7 linked regions of the Homo sapiens genome follow. The protein of the gene in region 1 interacts with the protein of each later gene in a biochemical or structural test. Each region holds a gene or a part of one and is shown in the gene's direction. Other genes may lie near its edges. The genes, in order: IKBKG, TPT1, RAB11A, PRKD3, TCP11, RNF34 and TCEANC.

What was found.
Region 2: the proteins of IKBKG (region 1) and TPT1 form a complex in vitro, tested with the Homo sapiens proteins (one study listed by BioGRID and IntAct).
Region 3: the proteins of IKBKG (region 1) and RAB11A are reported together in a solved structure, tested with the Homo sapiens proteins (2 studies listed by BioGRID, with this or other methods).
Region 4: the proteins of IKBKG (region 1) and PRKD3 form a complex in vitro, tested with the Homo sapiens proteins (one study listed by BioGRID and IntAct).
Region 5: the proteins of IKBKG (region 1) and TCP11 form a complex in vitro, tested with the Homo sapiens proteins (one study listed by BioGRID and IntAct).
Region 6: the proteins of IKBKG (region 1) and RNF34 form a complex in vitro, tested with the Homo sapiens proteins (one study listed by BioGRID).
Region 7: the proteins of IKBKG (region 1) and TCEANC form a complex in vitro, tested with the Homo sapiens proteins (one study listed by BioGRID and IntAct).

The regions. Positions count from the first base shown.
Region 1 is NC_000023.11:154,557,620-154,561,119, forward strand, and holds part of IKBKG (NF-kappa-B essential modulator), read left to right. Parts: intron 1-912; coding exon 913-1,031; intron 1,032-2,787; coding exon 2,788-2,940; intron 2,941-3,500. UniProt on the Homo sapiens protein: Regulatory subunit of the IKK core complex which phosphorylates inhibitors of NF-kappa-B thus leading to the dissociation of the inhibitor/NF-kappa-B complex and ultimately the degradation of the inhibitor.
Region 2 is NC_000013.11:45,335,578-45,338,183, reverse strand, and holds part of TPT1 (translationally-controlled tumor protein), read left to right. Parts: intron 1-574; exon of another isoform or gene 575-630; coding exon of another isoform or gene 631-708; exon of another isoform or gene 709-795; coding exon 796-798; 3' UTR 799-2,606. UniProt on the Homo sapiens protein: Involved in calcium binding and microtubule stabilization. Acts as a negative regulator of TSC22D1-mediated apoptosis, via interaction with and destabilization of TSC22D1 protein.
Region 3 is NC_000015.10:65,872,491-65,875,990, forward strand, and holds part of RAB11A (ras-related protein Rab-11A), read left to right. Parts: intron 1-3,500. UniProt on the Homo sapiens protein: The small GTPases Rab are key regulators of intracellular membrane trafficking, from the formation of transport vesicles to their fusion with membranes.
Region 4 is NC_000002.12:37,255,334-37,258,833, reverse strand, and holds part of PRKD3 (serine/threonine-protein kinase D3), read left to right. Parts: exon of another isoform or gene 1-518; intron 519-1,904; coding exon 1,905-2,172; intron 2,173-2,368; exon of another isoform or gene 2,369-3,500. UniProt on the Homo sapiens protein: Converts transient diacylglycerol (DAG) signals into prolonged physiological effects, downstream of PKC. Involved in resistance to oxidative stress.
Region 5 is NC_000006.12:35,124,340-35,127,839, reverse strand, and holds part of TCP11 (T-complex protein 11 homolog), read left to right. Parts: intron 1-3,500. UniProt on the Homo sapiens protein: Plays a role in the process of sperm capacitation and acrosome reactions. Probable receptor for the putative fertilization-promoting peptide (FPP) at the sperm membrane that may modulate the activity of the adenylyl cyclase cAMP pathway.
Region 6 is NC_000012.12:121,420,618-121,424,117, forward strand, and holds part of RNF34 (E3 ubiquitin-protein ligase RNF34), read left to right. Parts: coding exon 1-161; exon of another isoform or gene 162-374; intron 375-2,768; coding exon 2,769-2,959; 3' UTR 2,960-3,500. UniProt on the Homo sapiens protein: E3 ubiquitin-protein ligase that regulates several biological processes through the ubiquitin-mediated proteasomal degradation of various target proteins.
Region 7 is NC_000023.11:13,659,641-13,663,140, forward strand, and holds part of TCEANC (transcription elongation factor A N-terminal and central domain-containing protein), read left to right. Parts: intron 1-11; 5' UTR 12-46; coding exon of another isoform or gene 47-128; intron 129-1,390; 5' UTR 1,391-1,482; intron 1,483-2,860; coding exon of another isoform or gene 2,861-2,868; coding exon 2,869-3,500.

The DNA.
Region 1 (3,500 bases):
GTGGGAGCTGCCGGTGCTTACCAAGGTTGGGATGCTTCCGTCCCGTGGAGACTGGGAGACTGGGCCCCGCGCCTCCTGAGGTTTCCGTTTCCAAGGAGTGGCTGCGGGGCCCTCGGGAAAGCCCCTGGGTTGTGGGTGCTACACAGATGTCTCAAAGGGACAGGGTAAGCCCTTTGTAGTAAATGCTGTCAGAAAGGGAGGTCAGGTGTTGGCCGGAACAGACAGTACATGCTCTGGGCAGCCCTGAGCGTTTCCAGACGGGAACTCACTCAAAAGGGGGCTGGGGCGTCCCAGGGGCGCGGCCTTAGGCTCCCAGAGGCCCCGCGAGGTGGTGGCCGGGTGTCTTCGGGCAGGGGTTTGAGTGCAGTGTGCCTGCCGAGAGGTTCTGCAGTTCCCAGTGTTTAACAAAATTCAGTGTCCACTCTTGATCTGCACAAACTCTCCCATCCTGGCGGCCCCGGGTGTGGACTGGGGCCTGTGTTTACTTTGCCCTATTCGTGTCTGGCCTCCTTTTGTCCCAAGTCTCAGAGAGACGGAGAGAGATCCCCTGCTGGGGCTGTAGCTGCAAGGCCACCGGGTTCAGCCCTCGAGGCCTGCTTGCCGGGGCAGTGACTAAGCCGTTGACAACCTCAAGGCAGCTTTGTGCTCCTTCGTCTCTTTGGGGATCTCTTTTTGCCCCATCTGTGTGTCACCCTGTGGCAGAGGGTTAAGGTGGGCAGCTGGGGAGGGTTGGGTGGCCCTTGGGCTCATGAGGCCCTAGGGCACCCAGGTTTGGGGGTGCCGAGGGCAGGAAAAAAGGCCTCATGGCGCGCAGGCCTCAGCCGCTTGCGGGTTGCCCCGGGCTTGCGGATGGCAGGAGTGGGCCGCTGGGGAGAAAGCAGTGCTGACAGGAAGTGGCTTTTTATCCTGCAGCAGATGGCTGAGGACAAGGCCTCTGTGAAAGCCCAGGTGACGTCCTTGCTCGGGGAGCTGCAGGAGAGCCAGAGTCGCTTGGAGGCTGCCACTAAGGAATGCCAGGCTCTGGAGGGTCGGTGAGTCGGGGGAGCCGGCTCCGGAGACCCCTTCCAGGGTTTCCAAAAGCAATGAGGTGGGTTTAGGGGCCTCCAGGGTGCTCCTTGATGAGGATAGACCGGGGCAGGCTGCGTAAAGACGTCGGGGCAGACGTCGGGAGAGGTCTGGGCCAGGCATCCGGGACCTGGGTCCCAGCCGGCTCTCCGCACTCTGTGACCCTTTGATGGAGTTTGGATTATTTCCTTAGGAGGCATTCTGGGGGCCCCGAGCCCACACCCACAGTGTCTAGTTCTCTGGAAGGACTTCTGGGACCGGCGCACAGTCGCCCTCGTGGCTGAGGTTGATGACAGGGAAAAAGGCACAGGGCAGGAGCCGCCAGGGCAGGAGCCGTGGGGGGAGTTGGAGAAGCCCTGTCCCAGCCTCCCGCTGCCCTGCGAGCGGCACAGTGAGAAGCGCCTCCCACACGGGCCGTGTTCCTGCCCAGGGATGCCCGCTAGAGACTCAGCGCCCTGGGTGTTTACTGGGGGCAGGTCCTGTCAGCGCCCTCTGCCAGGCAGGTACCTAAATCCCCGACTCCCAGCAGCAGAGCGGGTGCTCACGTCAACCACGTTCTTCCTACAAATGGCCTAGGTGCAGGGACCGACCTGACCACTAGAGAAAGTGTCACTGTGGCAAGGGAACTTCACCAGCCAAGGGCCAACCTTGCCAGCCGGTGGCCTCAGGCCTGCTGGTTACTCTCTTTTGCAAAGGGGTCTTGGTTCTTGTGAGTGGGACCATTGGGTCAAAGGGCAGGGAGGTTTCTGTGGTTCTCATTCGGTCCTGCTTCTGCCCTCCAGACAGATGGATCAGCTGCCAGGGGGGCCCCAGCCATCCCAGCACAGTAGGCGGTCAAGGTGCACTTGGGGCAGCCAGCAGGGCAGAGGGGAGGGGAGCTTGACCCAGGCTCTGATGGGCAGAGGGAACCCGTGCAGGGTGTGGGGGCAGTATGCAGGCAGGCGCGGAGGGGAGAGCCAAGCAGCCAGGCCTGCCAGGCAGAGTTGGGGTGACTGGAGAAGGGCCGTGTCTGCCTGTGGCCAGAGGCCACCCAGGACCTGGACAGATGCACCCACCATTGTCCCTGCAGTGAGGCTGTGGAAGGGCTTGGTGTGGTGGGATGAGGCCAGACCCTGGAAACTGGAGGTTAAGGGAGCTGTAGGGGGGCAGGTGTGGGAACTGAGCATCCGAGCAGGTCGTCTGGGACTCCAGCAGAGCTCTGGGCAGCAGCAGGGATGGGGCCGAGGCCCGGTCTGCATTGAGCTCAGTGCTTGCACGCCCAGGTGGGCAGTCTCTCATTTTTGGAACAGCAGTCTCTCCTGACCCCCTCCACTGAGACTGCTTTTGCTGGGGCCCCCAGCAGTCCCCCAGTGGAACTCCACGGGCAGTTCCGAGGGCTCCTCTCACCTGGCCCCAGCACTGCGGGATGCAGGCGACCCCATCCTTTTCTCGGACCACCCCCTTCCCCTGGCTTCCAGGTCTCCTTGCCATCTGTACTTGGTCACCTGCTGGGCCCCTGCATTGAAGCAAACACGTCTTAAGCAAAGCTCCTCACCTGCTGCTCCCACCTGGCCCCCTGCAGTTGTCCTCGTGTCTGTTGACGGTGCCTCCACCCTGCCGCCTGGCATCAGCTCGCAGTCACAGGGTGTTCAGAGCCGACCCCCACCCCCCGCCCACGCCCTGCGCATAGCCCCTGCCGTCCCCCCGTTCGTCCTCCCTGAGTCTGCTCTTTCCCCGTGCCAGGGCCCGGGCGGCCAGCGAGCAGGCGCGGCAGCTGGAGAGTGAGCGCGAGGCGCTGCAGCAGCAGCACAGCGTGCAGGTGGACCAGCTGCGCATGCAGGGCCAGAGCGTGGAGGCCGCGCTCCGCATGGAGCGCCAGGCCGCCTCGGAGGAGAAGTGAGTCAGCGGGGGCGGGGCCGCACCGCAGGGTCTGTGGTTCTACACTTGATCTTAGCCGAAAGGCTGAGAAGTGTCGGGTCCATGGTTCTTTCTGCCTTCTGAGGACTCCTTCAGATTCTGCCTGTGGCTGTGGGCCCATTCTGTCCCTTAGCCTTGCTAACGGTAGAGGCGACCATGATGACACCCGGTTTGTCTTTGATACAGTCATGCCATCTGCTCTCCAGACCACGTTTCACTGCGTGTCCACACGTGGCCTTTTTTGTAGTTTTTTTTTCCTAGCCACTAGGTCATCAGGGGACTTGTCCTTTAAAACCCCTTCTAGGCCAGGTGCTGTGGCTCACGCCTGTAATCCCAACACTTTGGGAGGCCAAAGTGGGTAGATGGCTTAAGCCCGGGAGTTCCAAGACCAGCCTGGGCAACAGAAAGACAACAAAAATACCCCCAAACCCCCCCGTCTACCAGCATCCAATCTGGGACCTCAGGTTCCTGTCCTTGGCGTGCCTTTTCAGTCTCCTTTAATCTAGAACAGTTCCCCTGCCTTTCTGAGCTGTTTGTGA
Region 2 (2,606 bases), on another chromosome or scaffold:
CACCACTGCACTCTATCCTGGGTGACAGAGTGAGGTGCTGTCTCAAAAAAATACAGTAGAGTTTAAATGCTGAAGGAGATCAGAGAACACCATTGATCTTCCTCTAGATATGGCCTCACTTTCACTTCATAATCATATTTTGCTGTATACGTATGGATCAGTATCAGTGGTTTTCACTTTGGTTTACTGATAATGGGCAGCTGATCATTGAAAAGCCTAGTGCAGTACTAGCTTAGTAAATAGAGCTGACTGCTGAACTGGTATGCAAATTGTTTTACTAATAATAAATAACTTGGTGTCTTCTATGGAAGGAACTGCTGGAAGCTGTACAGAAACAAAGGCATTCATTATCCTAGTTTTCATAGGCTTCTGTATAAGGAAGAAGAAAAACATAAAGCTATACTGAACAAGATTAGAGTCAACAGTAGACAGAAATTACTTAGAACAGTATAAGATGACTTACCAAAGGGGTTATTCAGACAGTATCTGAGGTTTTTGTTGGTAGAGCAGGGTGTGGGTGGTACATGCCACAGCCTTCTGAAAAATGAGCTACCGCTGATTTGGTAAGGGTGTTCTGCATCCACTGATAGACCTTGAACAATTTACTGTTGTTCTTTTGGTTTGCACTAGGATGCAAAAGAAAGAAATCCCTGCGCTTTCTGTCTGTCTTTGTGGCGGCCCAGATTGAATTGGGGAATACATCTTTAGCCTGGAAATGTAGGCTGCATGTTAATGGTAATGTAACTTTTGCAGTGTAATGTTTGAAAAATATTAATGTAGTTTTTGCTTTTACAGTAACAAATGTGGCAATTATTTTGGATCTATCACCTGTCATCATAACTGGCTTCTGCTTGTCATCCACACAACACCAGGACTTAAGACAAATGGGACTGATGTCATCTTGAGCTCTTCATTTATTTTGACTGTGATTTATTTGGAGTGGAGGCATTGTTTTTAAGAAAAACATGTCATGTAGGTTGTCTAAAAATAAAATGCATTTAAACTCATTTGAGAGAATGCCTTTTAGTTTAATGCATATTTAAACTAAATTGATCCTGTAGTGTTCCTGGAGAAGCTAGAGCCTGATTGTAGGCTACTACTCATCAATTAACTTCTACAGTGGAGACTACTTCTGGGACTGGAATATAAAAAAGAATCAAAGGTTCTGATTTTGAGTTGCAATAAAGGGAAAGACCATGCTCATAGCAGTGCCAACATCTGAAGTGTGGAGCCTTACCCATTTCATCACCTACAACGGAAGTAGTTAACTGGAAGAGATTACCAAGAGAATAAAAAGAGACTCATTCAGTGGAAGCAACTTTGTCTCAGCTTATTTCACATAAAGAGAGCGAAGTCTTTTGGGATGAATGTTAATTAAACTCCCTGGTAACTAGAACAGGGACTGGCAAACTAGCCTATCTGACCACCTGTTTTGTACACTTTAAGGTGGTTGGTTGCCTTTTTAAATGGTTGAGGGGAAAAGAATACCTTGTGGGATATGGAATTTAAGTTCGAGTCCAGTTTTATTGGAACGTGGCTATGCTTATTCATTTATGGATTGACTGTGGCTGTTGTCAGTGCATGAGCAGAGTTGTGTCTAACAGACTAGAGCCTGCAAGTTTGCCAGCCCCTGATTTAAAAGATGAAGGTACACAGAATGTGGGCTGGCTGGTGGGCAAAGGGGTAAAAATGTTCTCTATATTGTATCTGAAAAGATGGGGTGTCTGAATAAGAAAATGCATCTATTTGACAGACCTGGAGCAGTTGCTATCTGCTGCTATGGTTTCCACCACAGATGCAAGAAGAACATGTCCTTGCGCTTTCCGTCTGTCTAATTGTGGCAGCTGAGATTGAATAGAGGAATACAGGAGGAAAAAAAGCGGGAAGAGTTTTTGAGGCAGGTCGGTCACCCAGGCTTGTAGTGCAGTGGCACAAGCAACTCACTGCATTCTCTGCATCCTGTGCTCAAGCCATTTTCCCACCTCAGTCTCACTAGTTGCTGGGACTGCAGGCATGCACCCCTATGCCCAGCTAATTTTTGTAGAGACCGAGTATCGCTTAGTTGCCCAGGGTGGTCTCAACTCCTGGGCTCAAGGAGATCTGCCCACCTCAGCCTCCCAAAGTGCAGGCCTAGCCTGGGAGGGGAATTTTCAAAACGTGAGTTTTGGGAAATAGTCTATCAGCCTTACCTGGTTGATTACACTTGTAAAAGAAAGATTAAAAGCAGGCCAGTGACTCTGGTCTGCTTGAACATGTGAATGTAGTGGTTTGAGCAATCTGGAGTTTGCCCTAGTGTCAAATTCCAGACTGTCCATAGTGTCCAAAACCTGAGGCAGATACTAATGTTAACCCCCAGCACCCCGTGATTGGAAACAAACCTAAATACGTATTGGGAACTTAATAGCAATTTTAAGCATTCTGATAGATTTTTTGTAGGGATGGGGTCATGCCATGTGGCCCAGGCTGGTCTGAAAACTCTGGCCTCAAGTGATCTCAAGCTTTGGCCTTCTAAAGTGTTGGGATTACAGGTGTGAGGCATTGCACCTGGCTTAGCGTTCTGATTTGACATTGTAATGAAAAGTGTGAGTCTCATCTACAGGGCCTTT
Region 3 (3,500 bases), on another chromosome or scaffold:
ATGACGCGATCTCGGCTCATTGCAACCTCTGCTTCCTGGGTTCAAGCGATTTTCCTGCCTCAGTCTCCCGAGTAGCTGGGATTACAGGCATGGACCACCACACCCGGCTAATTTTGTATTTCTAGTAGAGACGGGGTTTCTCCATGTTGGTCAGGCTGGTCTCGAACTCCTGACCTCAGGTGATCCGCCCGCCTGGGCCTCCCAAAGTGCTGGGATTACTGGTGTGAGCCACCGTGCCTGGCCAGATTTCTACTTTTTTAAAGCTCTTACAGGATATGAGTCACTTTTTCTTTTTCTTTTTTAACTTCAATGCTGATTATTTAGCCAATTTCTTATTTATACAAGTATCCTACTTTAAAGTGAAGCAAGAATGATTTTATTTCAAAATGGCTTTATTGTACAGAGATTTATTCACTGAGATGGACTGCAGCTGTTTCTACTTAGAAGGTTTACCTAGCAAATGCAATAGTTGAGGGAATTGGAGTTAGTTTGTAACTAACCAGTTCAAAATAAAGGGATATTTTGATTAATAGGGGATGGAGTGGTCTAAATAGGAATGTAATGTGGGGCGAGCAGGACAATTATTCTAAATTATGTGTTTGTTCTTGAACAGTAACCTTTATTTAAGCCCAATAGTGAGACTTTTGGTGGGAGGGAATTAGTTTTATTTTATTTAAAGTTGACTTTTTATTTTTAAAACTTTAATTCCTTAAGTATTTACGAACAATGTGGTTAAGGCCCTGTGGGACATAAGTAAGCATCAATCATGATTTCTGTTTACAAATATTGTGTGGTAGACACCAATCCACAGTTAGATTTTCTGAAAATATCTGGATACATAGTCTATTGCTTAAGACATTTTCTTTTCAATCACATTGGAGGTCAGTAGTAATTAACCATCAGCTGATTGTCAGTAGAAATTATCATAGGAACTTTGCTGTCTTGCATCTTGGTAGTAGTTTTTCTTTCACAAGTTTTGGTTGAGCAACTCAGATTCTGCTGAATCTGGAAAAACTTGTCTAGACTTGAGCCTTATTGTATGCATTATATCTATATCTATATCTATATATATATATTTTTTGAGGCAGGGTCTCCCTCTGTTGCCCAGTCTGGAGTGCCATGGCACAGTCATAGCCCACTGCAGCCTCAAATTCCTGTGCTCAAGAAATCCTCCTGCCTCAGCCTCCCAAGTAGCTGCAACTACAAATGTGCTCCACCATGCCTGGCTATTTTTTTTTTTTTAAGACTATCCCACTTACAGAAATAAAATTTTCTTTTTTGTAGAGATAGGGTCTCCCTACGTTGCCCAGGCTGGTCTCAAACTCCTGGGCTCAAGGGATCCTCCCACCTTGGCCTCTCAGAGTGCTGAGATTACAGGCATGAGCCACTGTGTCCTGCCTTGAACGCATTGTATATTAAAAACTTTTGAGGAGGTTGGACTATGAATATAGTTGAAAGAATAGAAATGTCTCCAAATTTATGAAAACTAGAATGAAAATTACCAGTTATTCTCTCACGTGGTAACTTTTAGGGTTGAGGTACTGTCTTTGATGAATTATATTTTAGTCCAGTAAATTAGTTTGCAAGAGAAAGTATAAAACTAAATGTGGTTGAAGAGGCAGAAATTTTCAATGGATAATTAATATGTATATTCTGCTTTTATGCATTTAGCAGCTTGATATTCAGTATTAGGTATTTGCGATGATACTCAAATACAGCAGATGTCTAGTTGATAACTTTTTTTTTTTTTTTTGAGATGGAGTTTCACTCTTGTTGCCCAGGCTGGAGTGCAATGGCGCGATTTCAGCTTACTGCGATTTCAGCTTACTGCAACCTCCGCCTCCCGCTTCAAGCAATTCTCCTGCTTCGGCCTCCTGAGTAGCTGGGACTACGGGCATGCGCCACCACACCTGGCTAATTTTGTGTTTTTAGTAGAGATGAGGTTTCTCCATGTTGGTCAGGCTGGTCTCAAACTCCCGACCTCAGGTGATCCACCCTCCTTGGCCTTCCAAAGTGCTGGGATTACAGGTGTGAGCCACCACGCCCGGCCTAGTTGAGATAACTTTTTAAAACATTCATGAATTTTGAGTTATTTTCAGATTAGAGTGCTTTTTTTTTGTAGTGTTAACATTAATTGGTTACATTAAGAGAAAAGTTCCCTTGCTATCTTTATGATGGTATAAGGAGTTGAGATTGGTGAGATAATGAACATAATCATTAGTTAAAAGTGGAGGTCAAAAGGGAGGAAACCAAAACTTGAAAGTGCTGGAGTTGGCCGGGCATGGTGGCTCATACCTGTAATCCCAGTACTTTGGGAGGCCAAAGCGAGTGGATCTTTTGAGCCCTGGAGTTTGAGACCCAGCCTGGGCAACATGGCAAAACCCCATCTCTACAGAAAATACAAAAAATTAGCTGAGCGTGTTGGCATGTGCCTGTAGTTCCAGCTACTAGGGAGGCTGAGGTGGGAGGATCCTCTGAGCCTGGGAGGTCTAGGCTGCAGTGGGCTCTGCTTGTGCCGTGGCACTCCAGCCTGGGCGACAGTGAGACCCTGTCTCAAAAAAAGAAAGAAAGAAAGAAAGTGCTGGAAGTTTTTTTTTTGAGACAAGTTCTGGCTCTACTCCCCCGGCTAGAGTACAGTGGTGCACAGTCCAGGCTCACCACAACCTCTGCCTCCCAGGCTCAAGCCATTTGCCCACCTCAGCCTCCTGAGTAGTTGGGACTACAGGCATGCACCACCGTGCCTGTCTAATTTTTTTGTTTGTATTTATTCATGTATTTTTTGTGTATTTTTTTGTATTTAAATTTTTTTTTTTGTATAAGTGATTCAAAGGCCATTTCCTTAGCAAACATCCAGCCTTTTGTACTAAGAGGCAACAGTGAATGTATCCTATTAATAATAGACTATTAACTGAAACTGAGATTTGACTTCATATCCAGAATGGTGGACCTTGGAAACTAGTATATCAACTAACCATCCTATAAAATTGAAAGTGCATTGCTTTTGTACATCACTTTAATAACTTTGACATTTTCTTCTGATATCAAATAAAAGCATGTATGTGTTTGCCACAGCATCTTTGACACCCTCTAGTTGACTCTCTAGTTAGAAATAACCATTCTTTGTGCTGCATTGGATTCACTGCCTCCTGAATGATTTCTTGCTGAATCAGCTGACTGAGAAAGCCAGAAAGATATGCATTTGATAATGTACTCTGTCCAAGACTGTCCAGAGGCTAGCTTATATCCACTCCTGTGGCAAGGAGGGAATGTATAATGGACTCTCTTTGCCCTCTGACCAGAATGCAGTGAGCTCTCAGTTTTTACCATTCTTTCCACTCGTACCACCATCCCAGTCTCTTTAGTAAGGAATGGTCTTACTCCTTGGCCTTATTTTTGTATGTTTGATTTTCTAGTCCTGATGTCTAAATCAATTAGCTAGTTTAGATAAGAAGAAGTCTTAGTAGTCAAAAGTAGGAACGAATGTAATGTTTCCTGAAATG
Region 4 (3,500 bases), on another chromosome or scaffold:
GACTAAGGACAACAGATAGGTGTTTTCACTTGGTAAATATAACTCAAATTGTCTTTTCAAATAAAAAGATATATTAAAAATCGTTCAGCTTTTAAAGTAGTAATCATATTCTTTTTATGTTTATGTGGTTAAAAGTGATTCCCTATCATTTTGAGGTCGAAAGGGTTGCCTGATAGTTGGTGCAATGTTTTAAATAAACTGCTTCCATATATTATCTCATTTGATCTTCAAAATAGTAGACAAAAGATGCACACTCCTACTGGTAACATTAAAACTCCCACTTTCTGACCTCTATTTTAGTGATCCACAGTGTTCCAATGAGAAGCAAAGGGAAAATAATGTGATTTACTTGATACGCTTTTTATGCTCAAGTGTTAGCCATGGCTCCACTTCTTTAATCAGTTGCCAAACTTCCAAGTCATCTTTACCTTATCAAGATGTTAGCTGAAATCTGGCATTTAACAACAAAAAAAGAGTTTGTATTTCTTCAGGCTCAGTATTCGTACTCTTCAAAGACACTGAAATCGAGAAGCAGCCAGATTCAGTAATGATTTTGAGCAAATATCATTCATAAAAATATGTGTCAGAGTCCACCATCCCAGAAATAGCAGCATTTGATAACTTCACTTCGTTTTCTAGGCACTGTTTGTACCACTGTTTTCTACAGCTTAAATCTTTTTCCTCTCAATTTATATTAATGCTTTTGCTAAAGACATTTTTTAAGTCAGAGCATTTCCTCCAGAAAGTACCTGGCATTTGCTTGTTCAGCATGGATGTGGTCATTAATCCCCCAGATTTGAGCCTCTAGAAAAATCTGGGCAGCAAGATAAGTGTTCTGAGTTCTGCCAAGCTCATCAACTTCTAGAACTCTCTTTTGAGAGGATGTGGTAGTGACTATGGCTCCCTTTACATATAACTGTTTTCAAATCTAAACATCTAACTAGAAATAATTTGTTCCACAGTGATAGAAAAGTGTTGCTGTTACTCACTGGGGCAGTCTCCAGCATTATTCCACTGGTGTCCCCATTTAAAATTACCTTTAATACACCTCAGTTTTATTTACTTGCCAGTTTATAACATCCTTAGGAAAAGAGATTCTAGGATTAAGCAAAACAAGGGATGTTTTTAAATACTGTAACTTTTTTTTTTTTTTTTTTTTTTTCTTTTGAGACAGAGTCTTCACTCTGTCGCCCAGGCTGGATTGCAGCGGCGTAATCTCGACTCACTGCAAGCTCTGCCTCCTGGGTTCACGCCATTCTCCTGCTTCAGCCTCCCAAGTAGCTGGGACTACAGGCACCCGCCACCACGCCAGGCTAATTTTTTTGTATCTTCAGTAGAGACGGGGTTTCACCGCATTAGCCAGGATGGTCTCAATCTCCTGACCTCGTGATCCGCCCGCCTCGGCCTCCCAAAGTGCTGGGATTACAGGTGTGAGCCACCACACCTGGCTAATACTGTAACTTATTTTTCCTTCAGCAAACATTGAGTACCTTTATGTGTCCAGGCACTGTGAGGCCACTAAGGATTCAGAAATGAAACAATTCCTGCTCACAGATGATGGAAGAGTGATCTTACAAGACAAATGATAGAAAGCAGCATACTCTATTTCATAAGAAATCAGAACACTTATAACACCAGTCTGGTATTTGGTATTCTGGAAGCTAGAACTTTTGAAATATGTACTAGGAAAGCTCTTCATACTGTGTCAGTCAGGATCACAGGGCTATAAATGTGTCTGCCTTTTGAGAAAAGGATATTTTACAATTTCCTTATCTGTGATTAATATTCATAATCAGTAGAGCTGGCAAGTATGTTGAAATGATACATACAGTGTTATATTTAGGGACAGGTAGTTACATATATAACACTATAATACAAAATTAACATCATCCTTCAATTTCCAGGTGAAGCTGTGTGACTTTGGATTTGCACGCATCATTGGTGAAAAGTCATTCAGGAGATCTGTGGTAGGAACTCCAGCATACTTAGCCCCTGAAGTTCTCCGGAGCAAAGGTTACAACCGTTCCCTAGATATGTGGTCAGTGGGAGTTATCATCTATGTGAGCCTCAGTGGCACATTTCCTTTTAATGAGGATGAAGATATAAATGACCAAATCCAAAATGCTGCATTTATGTACCCACCAAATCCATGGAGAGAAATTTCTGGTGAAGGTAAAAAAAAAAAAAAAAAAAAAAAAAAAAAAATTTTGGCTATGTGTTTTAAGCCTAAACATCTTTCTCATCCCAAATCAGTCTGTCTCTTGCAACTTATCTTTTTAGTACATCTCCCATTCATCTTCCAAATTCAACTAGTTACCAGTTTTTTGAGCACTCTTCTTTTTATACTTTTATCTGTGTCTTCTGTATAGTTCCCAGGCATAGCACTTACATAGGCCCCAGTGGCCTCATTGTCAAACCACTAAAATATCTTTTTAACTGTCTTACCTGTTAAACTCTTTTCTGGTCCTTCCTAGTCACTACTGCCAAATCTATCTTCAGGAAACATTACTTTCATTTATGGTGCTCCCAAACACTTCTCTTTAACCACCTTACAGGCATAGTTATCTGTGATATGGTCCATGCTTACCTTCTAGCCTCATCTCCCACTACTCCCTACACAAACCTAGTTGTTTACTCTTCTGAACTGTTTTCTGCAATTTGCTTGGGACTGTTTTTCCCTTGTCTACAATCCTTCCTATTAAAATTCGAGGACCCCTTAATTTGTGGCTCATCTATAAAGTTCCCTGACTACTCCTCTACACTGCAGAATTTACTTAGGCTAAAAAACATTTGGGCTTTTTTATTATCTTTTTTTATTTTTATTGAGACGGGGTCTCCCTCTGTCACCCAGGCTGAAGTGTGCACAAACACAGCTCACTGCAGCCTCGACTTCCTGGGCTCAAGTGATCCTCCCACCTCAGCCTCCTGACTAGGTGGGATGATGGGTATGCACCATGGGCCACCCACACCTGGCTAATTTTTAAATTTTTTGTAGAGATGGGGTCCCACTATGTTGCCCAGGCTGGTGTCAAACTCTTGCACTCAATTGATCTTCCCAACTTGACCTCCCAAAGTGCTGGGATTACAGGCATGAGCCACTGCACCCAGCCCCATTTTTTTCTTAAGTATTCATTCTTTTCATAATTGACTTTTCTAATCTTCAGAACAAGACTGTGAGCTCCGTGAATGAATACCTAGCTCCGGTTCCTTATACCTAGAATGAACTTTATAATCACCAGACACACTGCAGTTTGTTTTCCTCTCTCCTGTGGACCTCTGCTGGGAAGCTGCATACATCTCTTTTTCCTGCCTAGTGAAGGCTTTTGAATTTGCAACTCCTGGTTCTGTACCCGTCAAGAATAAGTTGGCTGGCCCTCTTTAGTCTGCTGATACTGATAGGAAGGACAAGTACACTACTTAAAACATTATTTAACTGCCCCATAGAAGTTAATAGAACCAGTGCTGGGGAATACCCCCATCTGGATTTAACCAGCCCATGT
Region 5 (3,500 bases), on another chromosome or scaffold:
TCTATACACATTTGAATTCCTGAAAAGAACTCTTACAAGACAGATAGCTATTTATTATTTATCCTCCCCCAAAATGAGGAGACATGGCCCAAATAGTTATTGTATCCATCACTGGCCGCTCCTCAAATTCAGCCAGTTTCACTGACTATTGTGTTACCTAAAGGCTAAATCATAAAATTTAACTTCTAACAACTTGTATATAAAATAACAATGGAAAGAAAGAGGAAGAACAAAATGTTGGCATATATAAATAAACATACATATAATAAGCAAAGATAAAATTTATAGTCCTTGTTTCCATAACTGGTCACAAGGCTATAGTTGTTATCTATGGCTTCCTTCTTCCACGATTCATTCATTCCATATTTCCCTTGTCCTTGGCCAGAACTTCAGCTAGTTGGGGTTCTTTATCTGGTGCAGTGACCCAAACCTTCATTGCCAAAGAGTCTGAGACATTTTGCTTTGTTTGTTGTGGTTTTCCATTAACCTTTAATATTGAGCTTGGAAGTACTAAGAGGCAACTCAGAGAATCTCCTGAGTTTCAGGCATGGTCTTTCTTACCCCCATTGTGTGGCCACAATCCAATTTCTCATTGGTACTCAGGAGCAAGTACGGCATCCAGTACAGTAACTCCTTTTTTTACCCTTTTGGTTCAGTGGTATAAGGAGCCCCCAATGGTCAGTTTCATCTTCTGTTTCATTGGAACCAATGCAAGTATTTCACACAAATCAGCAGACCTCAAAGTTGGCAGGATGGGAAACAAAAATCCTGCAAGTGGGTTATCAGGTGTGCTAGTAAGAGGAAGCAGTCCTACTTCTACTGCTTGATTCCTGGACCCATGTATTCTGGCATTAGGGGACAGCACCATAGAATGGTCTTTGAAGCCAGGCACAGTGGCTCACACCTGTAATCTCAACACTCTGGGAGGCTCAGGTGGGCAGAATGCTTGAGTCTAGGAATTTGAGGCCAGCTTGGGTAATGTGGTGAAACCCATCTCTACAAAAAATAGAAAAATTAACTGGGTGTGGTGGTACATGCCTCTATTCCCAGCTACTCAGGAGACTGACACGGAAGGATTGCTGGAGCCTGAGAGGCACAGGTTGCAGTGAGCCATGATTGTGTCACTGTGCCCCAACCTGGGCAACAGAGCAAAACCCTGTCTCAAAAAAAAAAAAAAAAAAAAAAAAAAGTCTTTGATTCAAAGCATATATTGCATCCTGTAAGACCAATTCCCTTCCTTTCAGGTATTGTTGCTCACCTAATGCTGTAATTGAGTCTAAAATAAGCCATTCTACTTTTTAGTTAGGGCCAGCTGATTCTCAGTGAAAGCTTTTTGGTCAGACCAGTTAATTTAGTAGGTATGAATTCACTGCATTTCCTTTGCTGTGAAATGAGTTCCTTGAGCAGATGCAATGCAATGGAGTAGGCAAAGACCCAGGACAGCTGATAAGGCATTCTGTGATTATCTGGATGCTGGTACTGACAGAAGCATGGCAAACAGGGAAGACAACTCCATATCCAGAATATGTGTCTATCCCAGTAAGGATGAATCTCGCCCTCTCTAAACTGTTAGAGGTCCAGTGAAATCATCTGCCATAAGATGGCTGACTGATCCTCCCTGGGGAATGGGCCATATTGGGGGCTTTAAAAAATTTATTTAATTTTTTTTAGGATTTGTTTTTGTTGTGGCAAAATATTCATAACAAAATTTACTATTTTTTAGTGTTACAGTTCACTGGCATTAAGTATATTTACAATATAACCATCACCACTATCCATTTCCAGAACCTTTGAATCTTCCCTAACAGAAATTTTGTACTCATTAAACAATAATTTCCCTTTCCCCTCTCCCACTAGCACCTGTACTTTCTGTCTCTATGAATTTGACTACTCTAGGTACTTATAAATGGAATACAATATTTGTCCTTTTAGTTTTGGACTTGTTTAACTTAGTGTAATGTTTTAAAGGTCCATCCATATTGTAGCATATATCAGAATGTAATTCCTTTTTATGGCTGAATAATATTCTTATTATATGGATAGAATACATTTTGTTCATACATCTGTTGATGGACGTTTAGGTTCTTTATGCCTTTTGGCTATTGTAAATAATGCTGCTGTAAACCTTGTGTACAAGTATATATTTGAGTCCCTGCTTTTAATTTTTCTGGGTATATACCTAAAGTTGGAATTGTTGGATCCTATGGTAATTCTATGTTTAACTTTTTGAGGAACTGCCAAACTGTTTTCTGTTGTAGCCACACCATTTTATATTCCTACCAGCAATGTACCAGGGTTCCAATTTCTCCACATCCTAGCCAGCATTTGCTGTTTTCCATTTTTGGTAATGGCCATTCTAATGGGTGTGAAGTGGTATCTCATTGACTTGCATTTCTCTTAATGGCTAGTGATATTGAGCATCTGTTCGTGTGTTTGTTGGCTATTTGTACATCTTCTTCAAAGAAATGTTTACTCAGGTACTTTGTCCATTTTTAAATTGGATTGTCTTTTATTGAATTTTATGCTTTTGGTGTCAAATCCTGCCAAATCCTAGATCATGAATATTTACACCTATGTTTTCTCCAAAGAGTTTTGTAGTTTTAGCTCTTATGTTTAGGTCCTTTTTTTCTTTTTTCTTTCTTTTTTTTTTTTTTTTGAGACAGAGTCTTGCTCTGTCACCCAGGCTGTAGTGCAGTGGTGCGATCTTGGCCACTGCAATCTCTGCCTCCCTGGTTCAAGCTATTCTCCCACCTCAGCCTCCCAAGTAGTAGCTGGATTACAAGTGTGCACTATCACGCCCGGCTAATTTTTTGTATTTTTAGTAGAGATGGGGTTTCACCATTTTGCTCAGGCTGGTCTCAAACTCCTGACCTCAGGTGATCCGCCTGCCTCGACCTCCCAAAGTGCTGGGATTACAGACGTGAGCCACTACCATTTTGAATTAATATATATATATATTTTTTATTATACTTTAAGTTTTAGGGTACATGTGCACAACTGAATTAATATTTTTATATGGGGGTAAGGTAAAGGTCCAACTTTGTTCTTTTGCATGTGAATATCCTGTTTTCCCAGCACCATTTGTTGAAAAGACTGTCCTTTCCCCATTGGTTCTTGGCATTGTTGTTGAAAATCATTTGACCTTATATATCCAGGTTTTATTTATCAGCTCTCTATTCTTTTGGTCTGTGTATCTGTTCTTATTACCAGTATATGCTTGGTCTCTTATAAGCCATTTTCATTTGATAATAGATTGCTGCTGTGCATGTCCAGTCTTGTAGCTACGTAAGTTAGACAATACCTAATTCCTGATGGGAAGCTTAGGCCACATGGTTACCCAGTGTTCTATAGTAAGGTGTTTACTTTCTACCAAGGCCCAAGAAGTTGTTTCTCAAAAGGTGAATAATTATCATTAAAGAAGGAATAGATTTGCTCCCAATTCCTAAAGGTCCATGTGTGGTTCCCTTATTGGTGCTTGCAAGACATTCTGTACAGCACCC
Region 6 (3,500 bases), on another chromosome or scaffold:
TGACTTGTCAAGCCTTGATGATGTGGAAGGAATGAGCGTGCGCCAGCTGAAGGAAATTCTGGCTCGGAATTTTGTCAACTATTCTGGCTGTTGTGAAAAATGGGAACTGGTAGAGAAAGTAAACCGGTTATACAAAGAGAATGAAGAAAACCAAAAGTCCTGTAGGTTTATCTTTTCATTTTTTCCCTGTAGTATTTTTCCTTAGGCTTTTAAAAACTGGGTTGTTTTTGTCACAATTAAGTCAAATTTATTTTTGAGAAAGCTGTGTACCATTTTACTGAGTATCAGTTAGTTACATGAGCCTGTTTATAGATCTGGAAAGGAGTAACTTCATTATGTGATGTTCATTATGGCTGCGAGACCACCACTGCCAAGTGAGTTAGAAAATTATTCAATTTGGTTTTTCTTACTATAATTAACTATTTGTTACAACCCTAATTAAATTCCTCGTCTCTGTAAAAATGCTTATTTTCTCACTAATGCCTTTGGCCGGCCAGTACCTTGGTTCTCTCAACTTTTAAATCTAACAGTAGGGGGAAAATTCCCTATAGCCCAGATGTTACATAGTTCTTAGCATCAACTATCTGTAGATTTCTGTGTAAGTCACAAAAAGCTGAGGTTAAGAACTTCTGAACTAGGCTGGGCTTGGTGGCTCACAACTGTAATTCTAGGACTTTGGGAGGCTGAGGCAGGAGGATCACTTGAGCCCAGGAGTTTGAGACCAGCCTGGGCAACATAGAGAGATCCCATCTCTAAAAAAAAAAAAAAAAAAAAAAAAAAACCAAAAAAACCTGGTGTGGTGGCACCAGCCTGTGGTCCCAGCTACTTGGGAGGCTGAGGGGGGAGGATTGCTTGAGCCTGCAGGGAGCCGTGGTCATGCCACTGCACTCCAGCCTAGGTGACAGAGCAAGACTGTCTCAAAACAAAACAAAACAGAACAAAAACTTCTCAACTATACATTGATGAAATTTGGCACAGAAATTCTTCCTCAGCTGGTAACACGATCAAGCCACGGAACATTTATGGACAAGAAAAAATAATTCAGTTGTATTTATTTTTTTCTTTTTAATTGTAAAAAAAATATATATGTACTTAATATTTTTAAATTGAGACAGGGTCTCACTATGTTGCCCAGACTAGTGCTGAATTAGGCGTGGGCCACCATGCCTGACCCTCAGTGGTGTTCAGACTAACAAATCTTATGTTCCTATCTAGCTTAAACAGCCCTCCCATCATTAACTTTTATCATCTTGAGTTTTGTCCTTTAAAAGCTGGTTATAATACAGCATTTGTTGATGAACAGGTTTATGCCCAGAATATGCACAAAATATTTTGGCAATCCTACTTCAAAGATGATGTCACAGTGGTAGATGCAGGAATCTTCATCCTCAGAGCTTTCAGAGGTCGTAGGCTGCTGGCTGGGAAATGGTTTTCTGGCAGTGAGGGGAGAAGTCAGTTGACTTCATAAATGTAAATAGCAACTATGTACAGTGCACAACGATAATGCCATTCCCACCCTTAAGTACTTTGCGGCGTAGGATATAACATGGTTGTTATTATGACAGCATGGTTTCCAGTGTCTTTCTCCATTAACTCACTGCATAATCTAACCCTAGTTCAATCTCTGGCTTGGGTGGAACACACATTTTGTTTTGAGCACAGCTGGCATCTTTCCTAGCTTGACTGGCTCCAAGTCACTACCAAGATTGTTCCCATATCCCTGACAAGATACTGGCTCCTCTGCTTTCCTAAGTTCTAAAGAGTGGGAAGGAACCCTCCACACAGAAGGAGAGACCAAGGCCCACTCTGATTTCATCTTGAGTTGCCTAGTGCCTTCTCCATTGGCATATCTGCCATCTCATCCCATAGATCCTTTCTCCCCAGGTCCACACCAGTAGTCGTGGGCCATGAACTAAGACCCCAGATCACAAGAATCTCTCCCCATGAATGGCAGTAAAACATTTCTCTTAAATCTAGAGACTACTGACCTTTCAAGCTTGAATTCCTGTTCTGTTCCAACTATTCATGATTCCCTTTGATCTCCTCTGACCTGTAGAAAGGGAAGCACCCAAATCCATAGCCCTATGGCCAAATCTCAGGCTGGGGTTAACTTTTTTTTAACTTATTCATCGTCTTTCTTATTCACAGACTGGATTTTCTCAGATGTAAAGGTGGGCCAAGAGCCAGGACGGCCCATCTCTTTCAAGTTAGACTTCAGCAGGGCCAGGAACACAGATGGCTTGAGATGATTCTAAGGCTAGGGAGGGAAGGATGCACAATTATTCCTAACTTTCCTAAGGGGGAACTAAGGCTCCTTTTCCTACTGAGATGAGGCTCCAGAGACTGTGGTGTTCCCAGGGCTACAAAGCTGGGGCAACTGAGTTAAATTCCAATAGCATCCTGACTCCAAAGCCCATCTACAGAAGACCAGCTGAGGGTTTCTTTTTCTAGTTACAGAAGTAATATATCCCTATCACAGATGTCTTGAATTAGACAAAGATATAAAATAGAAATACATAGCTAACATTTGTTGGGTACGTCAAGCATTTTATTCTTTACAAAACCCTGAGGTATAGCTTTTATCATTGCCATTTCTAGTGGAGAGAACCAAAGTGCAGAGAAGTTGGGATTATTTCTTGTACAACACTGGGGTGGCATTGGGCCTGCAGGGGTCATTCAGCAGGTGGCTGCTCAGCTTCGGACTGGGAGGGTGGCTGGCTGACTGGCCATGCCTGAAGCCGAGGCCTTAGCTCTCTGTTGCCTTTCAGATGGCGAGCGGCTGCAGCTGCAGGATGAGGAAGACGACAGCCTGTGTCGCATCTGCATGGATGCCGTCATCGACTGTGTCCTACTGGAGTGTGGGCACATGGTTACCTGCACCAAGTGCGGCAAGCGCATGAGTGAGTGTCCCATCTGCCGGCAGTATGTGGTGCGAGCCGTGCACGTGTTCAAGTCCTGAAACAGGCTCCCCTCACCAGGACAGTCACCCCCAAACTTGACCCCCAACATTTCAATGCACAGAAGGGACTGGAAAGTTATGTTCAAAGGCTGAAGCTATTTTAAAACATTATTTTGACTACTAAGTGGGGACAGAAAGATCCATCCTGAGTTGTGGAAACATTGGTCCATGCCGTGAGCCTGTCTGCCTGTGGACACGTGAGCTTCCCGGGCTCAGCTGGGCTTTATCACACATCCCGTGAACACTCATTGAAGTCAGCCTGTTTGCGCCATGTGGGCATCAGCCACTGCTGTCTTGGGAGGACACTTATCCTGTTCTCTTATTTCCCCTTCATCCTATTTTTAACTTAAACTGCTCAGATGTTTGAAACTTCTGTCCTCTTTGGATGAGATCAGTGTCCACAAGTGGCCGACATGGAACATGCTGAGCAGTGGCTCCTCTGAATGTTCACTTTATTAGTCATGTATATTTTAAATGCTAACATTTGATGAATGTAAGTTTCCACATTGTTGCTGTTTCTGCATTTAAACATAATTGGGAA
Region 7 (3,500 bases), about 140 Mb from region 1:
TTTTTTGACAGAGTCTCGCTCTGTCGCCAGGTTGGAGTGCAGTGGCATGATCTCGGCTCACCGCAAACTCTGCCTCCCGGGTTCAAGCAATTCTCCTGCCTCGGCCTTCCGAGTAGCTGGGACTACAGGTATGCGCCACTACATCCAGCTAACTTTTTGTATTTTTGGTGGAGACAAGGTTTCACCATGTTGGCCAGGATAGACTCGATCTCTTGACCTCATGATCCACCCACCTTGGCCTCCCAAAGTGCTGGGATTGCAGGTGTGAGCCACCACGCCCAGCCTGTCTTAAGCCTTTTTAAGTATACAGTTCAGTAGTGTTATGTACATTCTCGTTCCAGAGGGGAGGTGGGTAGAAGGTGATTGATTCATTGCTCATACCATTTTTCAGTAGGTATATCTTAAGTGCATATAGTTTATCATGAAATTGCGTTAGACCAATAACTTTTCTGATTATGAAAGCAATACATGCTCATCACAGAAAATACAGAAGAGGAAAATAACAAATGAAAATTACCTAAAATCTTACCATTCAGAAAATGCCCCTCTTTAAAATTTTGTGTATCTCTTTTCAGTCTTTTCACATGTAATTCTTAAATAAAATTTGGATCAAATTCTATTTTTAAATAACACCTTTATTCAGATGTAATTCACGCACCATACAGTTCACCTAAAGTGTACAATTCAGTGTTTTTTAGTATACTCAGTTGTATAACCCATCACCACAAATAAATCTTGAGAAGATTTATGTGTGCCACCACCTCCCAAGAAAATCCCTGAACTTTATCAGCTGCTCCTCCTCCTTCACCCCACTGCCCTTCTGCCCTACCCTACCTAGTCAACAACTGATCTATTTTCTGTCTCTATAGATTTGCCTGTTTTGGACATTTCATGTAAATAAAATCATACAATATGTGGACTTTTCTGTCTGGCTGCTTCTGCTCAGCATAATGTTTTCAAGGTTCATCCATGTTGTAACTGTATCAATACTTCATTCCTTTTCATGGCAGAATAATATTCTGTTGTGTGGATAAATCACATTTTATTTATCCATTCATCAGTTGATGGACATTTCGATTATTTCCCATTTTTGGCTATTGTGAATAATACTGCTATGAACATTTGTATACAAGTTTTTGTGTGGACATATGTTTTCATTTCTCTTGGATCTGCTGGGTCATATGATAACTGGTTTATTCATTTATTTATTATTATTTTTTTTTAGACAGAGTCTTGCTGTGTTGCCCAGGCTGGAGTGCAGTGGCACGATCTTGGCTCACTGCAAACTCCGCCTTCCAGGTTCATGCCATTCTCCTGCTTCAGCCTCCCAAGTAGCTAGGACTACAGGTGCCCGCCACCACACCCGGCTAATTTTTTGTATTTTTAGTAGAGATGGGGTTTCACCATGTTAGCCAGGATGGTCTCGATCTCCTGACCTCGTGATCTGCCTGCCTCGGCCTCCCAAAGTGCTGGGATTACAGGGTGAGTCACCATGCCCGGCCCATATGTTAACTGTTTAGTCTTTTATATAGTTTTACATCTTGATTGTTTTTCACCTAACTTTATGACCATTTTTCCATGTCGTTAAATATTATCTAAATACATGATTTTTAAATGGTTATATTACTGTATCCTAGGAGTGTGCCATATTTTTAACCATTCTCCATTTAACCATTTGAGGGCCTTCTAATTTCTCCTTAGAAGAAAATTCTTACATATGCAGTCTCCACATCTCTCATTTCCTTAAAGTAAATTTATGGAAGTAGAATTACTAAAAGGTCATTATGTTTTATGTCACTTGTCATATGGTGTCTGGGAAGACTGCGTGAATTCTCTCTCTAAACACTTCAGTGTTCTTAGCCTGTGTATGTTCGGTGGTGATTATTTAATATCAAGTGCTATAAAACAGAGCCCATGGATTTTTGAAAAGACACAGTCCCTGCCATCAAGATGCTTATGTTCACATTTAGACCAGACAGATAAATATAGATCCAAGGGTATTATATAGACAAGATTATGTACATTATGTGGAGGGAAAAAATAGACTGCATAGATAAAAGTAAACATTTGCCTGCCTAGGATGAAATTCACACAGACATAATCATTGAGCAACTCTTTACACTTAAAAATTTTTTAAAAATTAACAAAACCAAAATGTAAGAACCAGTTAGTCTAAAGTCATAAATCATCTGGATCATTGAGTCTGAACCTTTCCCTTGTTCAGAAGACTCCTAAGGCAGCACAGTGTAGCCTGTTGGCTTTTGGGACCCGCAGACGTATCTCTAGCTGCTTTTCAACCTGTGCTGTCTCACATTTTCCTTAGATTGCTTGAGACATTAGCAAACCCTTTCTGTCTTGTTTCTCTTTTATTTTCAGAAGAGTACCACTTTAAAGATTATGAAATGAGCAAGTAGTTCAGTTATATAGCTGACTCTGGGGAAAAATTGTCTAGCACTGTTCAGCATTGCCATATTGATGCTGACACCGGCATGATTTCACCTCCAACATGACCACCGGATTCCGCCCAAATGGATTGACTAATCTAGAAAGATCATTGATTTGTAAAATTGGAGGTGGAAAAGCTATAGCAGATCCTCCGGCAAGCCTCTTAAGCAGATGTTATGTAGAGGCTCTGCAATGCTGTTTGTTTGTTTTTCACTCGTAGGAATTAAACTCTTGAGAGTAAACCATACCGTCACCTTAAAGATTCCATTTTCTAGCGTGTCGCATACATTTGTATTACATGACTCTTTCGGAAAACATTGCCTAGGTAACTGACAGAAAGTGCTATTTTAGTATCCAGAAGCTGCGACTAGCAACGGCAAACTTAAGAAAACTGAAACCTCTTTTTTCTTTGCAGCTGTAAAGATGTCTGACAAGAACCAGATAGCTGCCAGAGCTTCTCTTATTGAGCAACTGATGTCCAAAAGGAATTTTGAGGATCTTGGCAACCACCTTACTGAGCTAGAAACAATTTATGTGACTAAGGAGCATCTCCAGGAGACAGATGTGGTCAGAGCTGTGTACAGAGTCCTCAAAAACTGCCCCTCTGTGGCTTTGAAAAAGAAAGCCAAGTGTTTGCTATCAAAGTGGAAAGCTGTTTATAAGCAGACTCACTCCAAAGCGAGGAACAGCCCTAAATTATTTCCTGTGAGGGGTAATAAAGAAGAAAATTCAGGACCTTCTCATGACCCAAGTCAGAATGAGACACTGGGCATCTGCAGCTCGAATTCTCTGTCTTCCCAAGACGTTGCAAAACTCAGTGAAATGATTGTGCCTGAAAATAGAGCCATTCAATTGAAACCTAAGGAAGAGCATTTTGGGGATGGTGACCCTGAATCCACTGGCAAGAGATCGAGTGAGTTGCTGGATCCCACAACACCCATGAGAACTAAATGCATAGAGCTTCTTTACGCAGCTTTAACTAGTTCTTCCACAGATCAACCCAAAGCTGATTTGTGGCAAAACTTTGCAAGAGAAATTGAAGAGCATGTTTTTAC